2 separate regions of the Homo sapiens genome follow, and region 1 is linked to region 2. The links come from fine-mapping of genetic effects on gene expression. A gene starts in region 2. The other region holds a variant in brackets. All regions are shown on one strand. Distances are from middle to middle.

Region 1 (4,394 bases), 260 kb before region 2:
TGTGATTTGTTAAAATAGTATATTAGGAAATGTGCCAATTATTAGAAGATCTAGATAACTCAGTGTACCATTATTTTCCCAATGATCACTGAATGTTGTTACAAATTTATAAATTCATTCAAGGTGCAATATAGGCAAATAGATTTTAATGCAACAGTATGGAAAAAGTTCATCGATACGATTTCGGATTCTACTTTGTGACTAACCTTTAAGAAATTACTACTTGTCTAGTGTTTGTATAGTATCAAAGAAGAATGCCCACTATTATCTGAAAATGCTGTTGACATAATTCTATTTCATCTACATATCTGTGTGAGGCTAAATTTTCTTCATCTACTTCAACAAAAACAACAGCAGAAGTGACTAAACGCAGAAGCAGATCTAAGAATGCAGCTATCTTCTACGAGTCAATCTCCCTAAGTGCTGAGATTACAAACGTGAGCCACCATGCCTGGCCTGAAATTTTGTTGTAATTTCTAATATGGAAAATATCAACATATAACTTGCATAAACAAAAGCTCTTTAGGGACCTCAGTGATTTTTAAGAGCATAAAAAGGGCTCCAGGGGCCAAAAGTTGGAAACTACTGGATTACAGAATAGCCTCTATTTCTACAAAGATGATGGATTCTTAAACCTAAAATCTAAAGAAGCAAATAAATGGATAACTAATAGTAAAATTCCTTGCAAGATTGTTTGGGAATCAACCATACCATACAAAGAACTACTAAATGTACCATCTCTGCATAAAAATGAAGCCACATCACACAGAGACCAATAGTGTCTTCATATAGAAAGGAGCCCTCCACCATTTTCCAAGGTAGAAAAAAAAGACAGCCGGGCTCAGTGGCTCATGCCTGTAATTTCAGCACTGCGGGAGGCCGAGGTGGGCGGATCACTTGAGGTCAGGAGTTCAAGACCAGCCTGGCCAATATGGCAAAACCCCATCTCTACTAAAAAAAAAAAAATCACCCAGGCGTTGTGGCACATGCCTATAATCCCAGCCGTTCTGGAGGCAGAGGCGGGAGAATCGCTTAAACCTGAGAGGAGGAGGTTGCAGTGAGCCGAGATGGTGCCACTGCACTCCAGATTGGGCAGCAGAGTGAGACTTGGTCTAAAAAAAAAAAAAAAAAAAGACTTCCTTGCAATTCTTCTGTTTAATAAGGCCAGGTACAATCCCTGGTACTTATCAGGTTGGATGGAAACAGCCCCTAACTGTTCTCTGATTATCTCTGGGATGTACCCACTCTGTCACATTAGACTCATTATAAGGCTAGAAGATGTTCTTTTCCCAAAGCCAGGTGAATGTTAGATTTCAAGCAAGAATATGGGAAAGGGACAGAAAGAGATCTCCTCCGCATGGGAAAAAAAATATATAGAACACACATTCCTCAAAGTTCAGAAATTCATACTGAATGAATCCACCCAAGTAAACAAATTTGTCTGGGACGCCTGACACCATAATATCAAACAATCATGGGCCGGGCATGGTGGCTCATGCCTGTAATCTTAGCACTTTGGGAGGCCAAGGCAGGCAGATCACTTGAGGTCAGGAGTTCGAGACCAGCCTGGCCAACATGGCAAAACCCCGTCTCTACTAAAAATACAAAAATTAGCTGGGCGTGGTGGCGTGTCTGTAGTCCCAACTACTCAGGAGCCTGAGGCATGAGAACTGCCTGAACTCGGGAGGTGGAGGTTGCAGTGAGCCGAGATTGCGCCACTGCACTCCAGCCTAGGTGACAAGAGCAAGACTCTGCCTCAAAAGCAACAACAATCAAATCAATCAATCAATCATGAACAAATACACAAGGAACAAAAAGATCATTATCTTTTACCAATGTGCTAAACATGTTCTTGACACGTTCCACATAGAAAGCACCATTTACTAATTTTACATCTATTCCTGGAAAATAGTTGAAAATGAAATGAAAAATTCAGTGTTGTTCTTGGTGGTGAACCAGTAAATCTGGGATATCACATGTGTTGCTAGTACAGTTATTGGCAGGGAAGGAGCCCTTATTTTCCACTGCCAAAACCAAACTGCCAAAACAACACAGAGCCTAAAGCTCATGTTACCATGACTGGCCATTTCCACTCCCCTGTGACGCAGAGTTTGC[G/A]GGGAACATCTTGTCAGAGAGCTCAACTGCAAGATGAAGGGTGACTGACAGTGACTGTTGGACCATAAGTAGGAACCACTGGGCTATTTTCTTCTAGTGAGTGTGTTTCAGTCAATTGTGAATGAAAACCGAGTCTGACTATATATTCTTGGCAGACTGATACATAGAATTAAAGAGCTGGGCAGTAGCCACATATACCACTGTGTTGAAAGGAATAAAGAATGGCTGTTGAGCTGCAGTGGGCAGAACAGTTTGGGGTAGGACAGGGGAGCTGGGAAACTAAAAGCTTAAATCAAGACTCAAAAGCTCCATCTTTCAAAAGCTACACAAGCCAGGGATGCTTCTTCCACAGACAAGTCCTCAACAGTACCTCGTGCGGTGGTACTAACAGCATGGCCAGCACAGCCAGCTCACTCTCAGTCTAGGGAAACAGCGACGTCCTTAGACACATGGCAGATTTTTGAAATGAAACTTGAGCCAAGGGATTGACGCAGCCACCTTCCAAGTAGTCATAAAAGGGAACTTAGGCCGGAAGTCACAATACTGTCTGCAGTCATAGTGATCTCTTTTAGGATTGTTGCTCTCCTGCCAACTGGCCTCAAACATGTCAGTTTTTGTTCTTGTTTGAAAAATGAAAGCACCTATCATTTTATTATCTAGGTACCTTGTTTTCATATCTGCAGTCAAAGAAGCACTTAATCTTTCTTAGAGGGAACTATTTGAATAGGTACACACAATACATGTTACATACATAGGCATGTGTACACAAAGTTTTATATAGAATCATAAAATTGTAGACTTGGAAGATATATAAAAACCACTTGACTAACTTCTCACCTAAAGCAAAAACTTACATCACAATATACCAGACCCACCAGGAATCCTCTCATCCTCTTGACCACCTTCCCCTTTGTACTGTGCTGGTCTCTTCTGAGCATCCTTCTAGCCCATTCTAACCTTGTCTCTTCACTCTTTTCCTTCTGGACTGGGGTCCCTGTGGGGGAGTTTTCCTCCTTAGTTACTTAGTTACAATCCCCATTTGGCTCTCTCTCGCTCTCTCTCTCTCTCTCTCTCTCTCACACACACACACACACACACACACACACACACACACACACACTCTCTCTCTCTCTCTCTCTCTCCCTAGTCACCTCTGTTTAAACTTGTTCTCTCATTCATTACCTTCATTGCACAGCTAAGAATCTGACCTCGGGCATTACACCCCCACTAAAAAAATAAATTAAAAAAAAAGTTTTATTTTCTTTGCCTGAAAAAAGAAATCCCCAGATTGTATTTGTTGACTATAGTTGGGCTACTTTCCTCTTCATTAAGTGTATATTATTTGAACAGATTCTTATTCTCCTCGTGTCCATTCTCATATTCGGTGGATCACCCTATCTCTTATTGCCTTTTCTTTCATTTTTTGGCTTCATATTCATTGCCATGGCCACAAACTGGGTCCAAGGCTGAGTCATTTGACAACTGAACCACCTGTCTTCCAGACTCCAGCATCTCTCCCCTCTACTGTATTTTCTGCAGAGCTACACAATACTCCTAAAGTTTTATCCAAATTACATAAAAGGCTTTTTGCAGATTTCCACAGAATCAAATGCAATATATATATATAGCATTTTCTAAACTGTAAAGTATTATGTAACTGTGAATTTCTTCCCTTTCTCTTTTTTCCCTTCTATTTGTATCTATCTTCTAGTTGAGGTGTTTGTTTGTTTGTTTGTTTGTTTTAATCACAGGTTTCCAGTCTCTCCACCACTGTTTCCTCAGAACCTCATTCATGCCTGCCTCTTGCCATGTTTTGTTCTGTAACATGGACCCTGGTCAGATATTTTTCCTGGTTAAAGAACAAATATATTCTGACTTATGCTGCCTTTGAGACAGATTTCATGCCAATCTCTCTGCTCCCAGAATTCTCTCCATCAAATCAGGTCTCTTCCCTTCCTGATCACCCTGCTCAGGACCTACCCACTTCTCCCACTGGGCCCTGTACAAACAGTATGGTCTGTTCTGAATTTTACCAGTAATTTTAAACACCCCAATAATCTATCCAATCTCTAACCATTCCCATTAGGTTTGCTTTTCGGTGGAAAATTGAGGACAATATACGAACATGTGTGGAAAGTGCCTGGAATGTGAGACATGTTATGTAAGGCTGTATATGAACTCTGAGTTAAATGGATCTGTGTAAAAATCCCAGAGTTGCCATTTACTAGAGACGTCAGTAGGCCCATTTGCTCTGAGCTCTCCCTCTATGTTCCTACCTC
Region 2 (4,394 bases):
GCCAGAGCCAGGAGGTAAGAACCATATGTCTAGTAGGAAGAGGGTTTTGAAGAAAAACGTTTGTCTCTGGAAAAGCAGGTCAAGTATGCACCCAGGCCGCCTTGAGAGTTATGCCTAGGCCGTTTCATTTCAGTGTCCCATCTTGCACAACGGTGGGAGCAGCTGTGGGAGATCACAGGAGATGCAAAGCAACACAAGCAACCTCATCTGTCTCCCCGACGGCCACACCAGAGTTTCCAGGTGGCGGGAGAGAGAGCTCAGTTCTCCCAAAGAGCACACAGCTAACCTGCCATCCAGAACATCACTTCCCATACCAAACCATTCCTTTTTCAAGGCCTGAAGGCAGGCAATTTGAACGTCCTGTAGCTGAGCACACCTCAGAAAACCGATTTTTGATCTAGAACTCGAGTCCTCTGCCAAAGTTCTAAGTTTTCATGAAAACAAAAGAAGAAAAGAAAACCCGCAGGCAGGCACAATCGTTGGCTGCCCGGATCACGAGTTTCCCTTGCTGCCTAGTCTTGTGGAGTTTAGAGGTAACCAACTAGGAAAAGAGAAGTGTCCAAGTGTCAGGAGTAGGAATGAGCCCAATCTCGCCTGTGTGTGTCCCTCCCAACATCCCTTAGAAGAGGCTGGGACACTAAAACTGGTAGTCTGGGGGACCAACAGCAGTCCAGATCCTGGCTGGGGCAAGCCGCCACACCCTCTGCAGCTCACAGCACAAGCCTCGGCTGGGAGGGGCCCAGACACTGTCCCAGCAGGAAAGGGAGAAAGAGGGGAGTTTTCAGAGTCCTGGATTTGAGGAGCTGGAAAGCTGGGAGAAGCGGAATGCAGGAGGGAGCGGGGGACCTGGCTGGGCGTGCAAGAGGAGGGGAGGGGTCGCCCGTGCAGTCAGGACAGCTCGCAACACGTCCCCGCAAAACTCCACATTTTTGTGGTTTAAGATTTAAGTCTAGAGGGAACGCGCTGAGGTTCTCCCCGGCCTGGGTTTCAGATGCCCCTGCTCCTCGCCAAGGGCCGGGGCGCCGCACTGCTGTGGGTCTCCGCTTTCCCTTTCGGGGAAGCTCCCCTTGGCCAAGCCGCGACGTGAGCCCTCCAAGTTCGCCTCCGCTCACCGCCCGGCGCGGCGCCCGCGGCCGGCCACATGCGCCCCATCTGCCGGGGACTTCGCAGGTCCCGGGCTGGCCGCCCGAGGGATGGTCCGCAGGGGCTCAGGGTGTTTTGTTTTGTTTTGTTTTGTTTTGTTTTTTTTAAAAAAAAAGCCTAAGCGGCTCGCCACCTCCTCCTCCCAGCCCGCGCCACCTTCTCTTCACGCCCACGCCGCACCTCCCGGGCACACGCGCCGTGAGGTGCCTCTCCAGCCAGACAATGGGTTCGAGGCTGGTTGGGCAGCCGGCCCTGAGCCCCCATCCCCATCCCGGGACCCCGAGAGACTGAGCGCGGGGGACTGCCAGGGGGGTGAAGAGGAGTGCTGGGGGGCCACAAAGGGGAAAGCGGGAGCCTCCCCCTCGGGAATGGAGGCTCGCTCCCGGCACGGGGTGAAGGGGAGGGGCGGGGGTCAGCTGCGCCGCCCGGCCCGGGGCCCCGGGTCCCCGCGCCCGACCGCCGCCGCGCACTTACCAGCACGATGGCAAATCGCTCCTCCAGTTCACCTGGCTCTGGCATCGGCAGCTTCAAAGGCACGTTGTGCGCCCTGAAATCGGTCTGCTGCGAATCCATGCTCCCTGCGTTGCCCATGTCGGCGGCGCGCCGGGGCCGGGGGCTGCTCCGGGCCCCTAGCGTGCGCGTCGGAAATCAGAACAGCTCCCGGCGGTCGGCTGCCGCCCGCAGGCGCGACCTGCCCGGCTCCCCGCCCTCCGCCGCGCCCAGGCGGGTGTGCGGCGCGCACCGCTCCCTAGCAGCGCTCCAAGCCGAGCCGCCCCCCGGCCTCCCTCATGCTCTCCGCCGCCCCAGCGCGGCCCCGGCCTCTTTTCCTCGGGAGGGGTAGTTGGGGCGCTGGGCGCCTATGTGCATGGTGCTCCGCTGGCACACCGCCCCCTGCCAGAGATCGCGGCCCCCGGCGCGTGGTCCCTCCTACTCGGCCTTCTGCCGGGCCCGCGGCCGCCGCTGACACTTCCAGCCCTAGCCGGCCACGGCTGCGCCTGCCTGGCTAGCACCTGGAGCAGACAAATGCAGCTCCGCGCTCCCCTACACAATGCCACCTCTCGCCCGGCGCCCGGCCCCCGCCCCCGGCCCGGCTCCGCCCACTCGCCCCGCGGACTGCCGGGACGCGTAGTTTCTCTCCAAAGTGTCCGCGCGCAGAAACCACGCCTGCTCTAGAGCGCCAGGCCGGGTTGGGACCATTTGCAGCAAAGGCGATCCGTAGTCTCTGGAGATAGCATATTGTCACTTTTGACCCTCCTCACCCCAACAGTGGAATACTTACATCGTGTATATCATGTTGACACTTGGTAGGCGGGTCTGACCATGACGGAATCGAATCAATGAATGAAGGAATGCATGCCTTCTGATTAAAATTCAGAAAATCGTTGCTGTTTTTAAAAGATCTAGTTCAGTAAGGAACTTCGAAAGCACTGGCAAAGTTCTGTTTCATAAACGGGGGGGTGGGTCCATGGGTGCTTGTTTATCGTTCTTTCTTCCATATATATGTTCTTTGGTGTGATTGAAATGTTTTATAAACAGATGTATAATTTATGGGTATATATAGTCAGACCCTAGGAGCTAGGTAAGGATTCAATTCAATTTAAAAAAAAAACCTGTCAAACACCTATTATGTATGGGATATTGTGTTCCTTGGTGGGAGAAAAAAGAGATTTGCCCTGCGCTGGAATACTTGCCAATCTAGTGAAGGAAAAAATGTACACACCCATATTTCATGTGAGATGGATATAATGATAGAGTGTTCTGGGAGACTTTGGGATGATCTTTGGCTGCAGCTCTCTTATTCCTTCACAGCAGTCTTGAGCAAGGTGTCTTACAGAAAAGATTGGACCTGACTCTGTCCTCTGGGGTGTATTTCAGACTATAACTACCCGTTCTGAAACCTCGGAAATAGAAATAGCCTTATAAGAGACTTTAGCCAACTGCTCATGTGAATGTTAAGGGCATACATCTGGTTGACTTGTGGCTGAACTTCTGCAGTTAGTCCTTTCTTAGTTTAAAGCAGTGTTTCTTAATCCTAGATGTGTATCAGATTCGCTTGGGAAGCTTTTTGTTAAAACTACACACACCTTGGGCTCTGCGTATTATCAGAATCTCCCTAAGCTGAGAGCCGAAGCCTGGGCCGGTGTATTTTCAACAAGCTCCCCAGGTGATTTTGATATGCAGGTAAGGTTGTTATCCTTTTAGTAAATAGCAAGTGTTTCTGGACAAGGTAGTACACCAAGATTCAATCAAGGACATTTCATTCATCTTTATAAACTTCAAGATACTTTAAACATAGTAGACGCCCAAGAACTATTTGTGGAATTGACAAGTGACTTTTTCCAAAAGCATATGACACAAATACACACAAATACATCATGTATGTTCTATTAAACCACTTCTAGTCTTTAAAGAATGGAGACAGTATAAATAAATTCAACTTAAAATTCTGAATAACTGTAACCTGTATTTCTAAAGCAGTGTTGTATCAAAGTTAATAGCAAATGTGTTACTGATCTGAGAGAAAAGCAGGGCGGTTTAGATACACACACACTCCAAACTAATGAAAATGAGAGAGAAAGAAAGCAGTTCGGACCAGGTGAAACATTTCTGACCCACAAATGTATTTATTTCCTTGTAATCTCTAGACATATACTTTGGATCTGATTGACTCACAAAATCAGCCCACCCAGAGGGTTGCCCATCTGGATAAAAAAGGCTGGAATTCTTTTCTGCAGTTGAGAAAGCCTTTTTGATTACATTTATGTCTCCCTGCGGCTATATTTCTGCCAGTAACCAAGACCTTTTTCTCCCCTTACGTCTTATCACATCTAGTCTCTCTCATAAGCTCACACTTCGAGGGAAGCCAAGGAAAAAGTGTGCAAATCTATGAACCAAAAGAACTTTCCTGCCATTTCAATGTTTGGAATCTCTAATATTTGGTTGTTATTTGTGATTATTAAGAGGAGAAATAAACACTCCATAGGCTTGTACAATTTCTATAAGAATCCATCAAAATCTTAGGAAATTCTTTGCGGGGAGACGGCATGGAGGGAAAGGAAAGAAAAGACATTTCTATTACCTTAATTGTAGCACTCTTCCTCCCCACAGAATTAAAATCAAGCAATCATTTAAAAATGTATATTCCATTTATTATTATTATTATATATGATTTGTTACAGCTCATGTGCAAAATATTGGCAAAAAAGAAAATGTCTGGGCCGGGCATAGTGGCTCACACCTGTAAGCCCAGC

Direction of the effects. Alleles are on the strand shown, and positions count from the first base shown. SD is a standard deviation of normalised expression in the study named.
For the expression in skeletal muscle of the gene that starts at base 2,164 in region 2, allele G in region 1 goes with a lower level than allele A (small effect, 0.18 SD a copy in GTEx).

The links. PIP is the estimated chance that this variant, and not a neighbour inherited with it, causes the effect. A credible set is the group of variants that fine-mapping cannot tell apart.
Region 1: its variant is the best candidate, but not a certain one, in a credible set for the expression of FMNL2 in skeletal muscle (GTEx, PIP 0.61).

Annotation. Positions count from the first base shown.
Region 1 is chr2:152,592,702-152,597,095 of GRCh38, reverse strand. The region is part of intron 9 of FMNL2 (formin like 2); the gene reads right to left. Among named protein-coding and RNA genes, the nearest start is that of PRPF40A, 120 kb to the left of the region's middle. The variant G/A (reference allele first, on the strand shown) is at 2,116.
Region 2 is chr2:152,332,944-152,337,337 of GRCh38, reverse strand. It overlaps FMNL2 (formin like 2), which reads right to left and starts at 2,164. Exons shown (of 26, transcript NM_052905.4): 1 at 1,618-2,164. The coding sequence starts at 1,734. RefSeq lists silencers at 1,105-1,204, 1,715-2,364.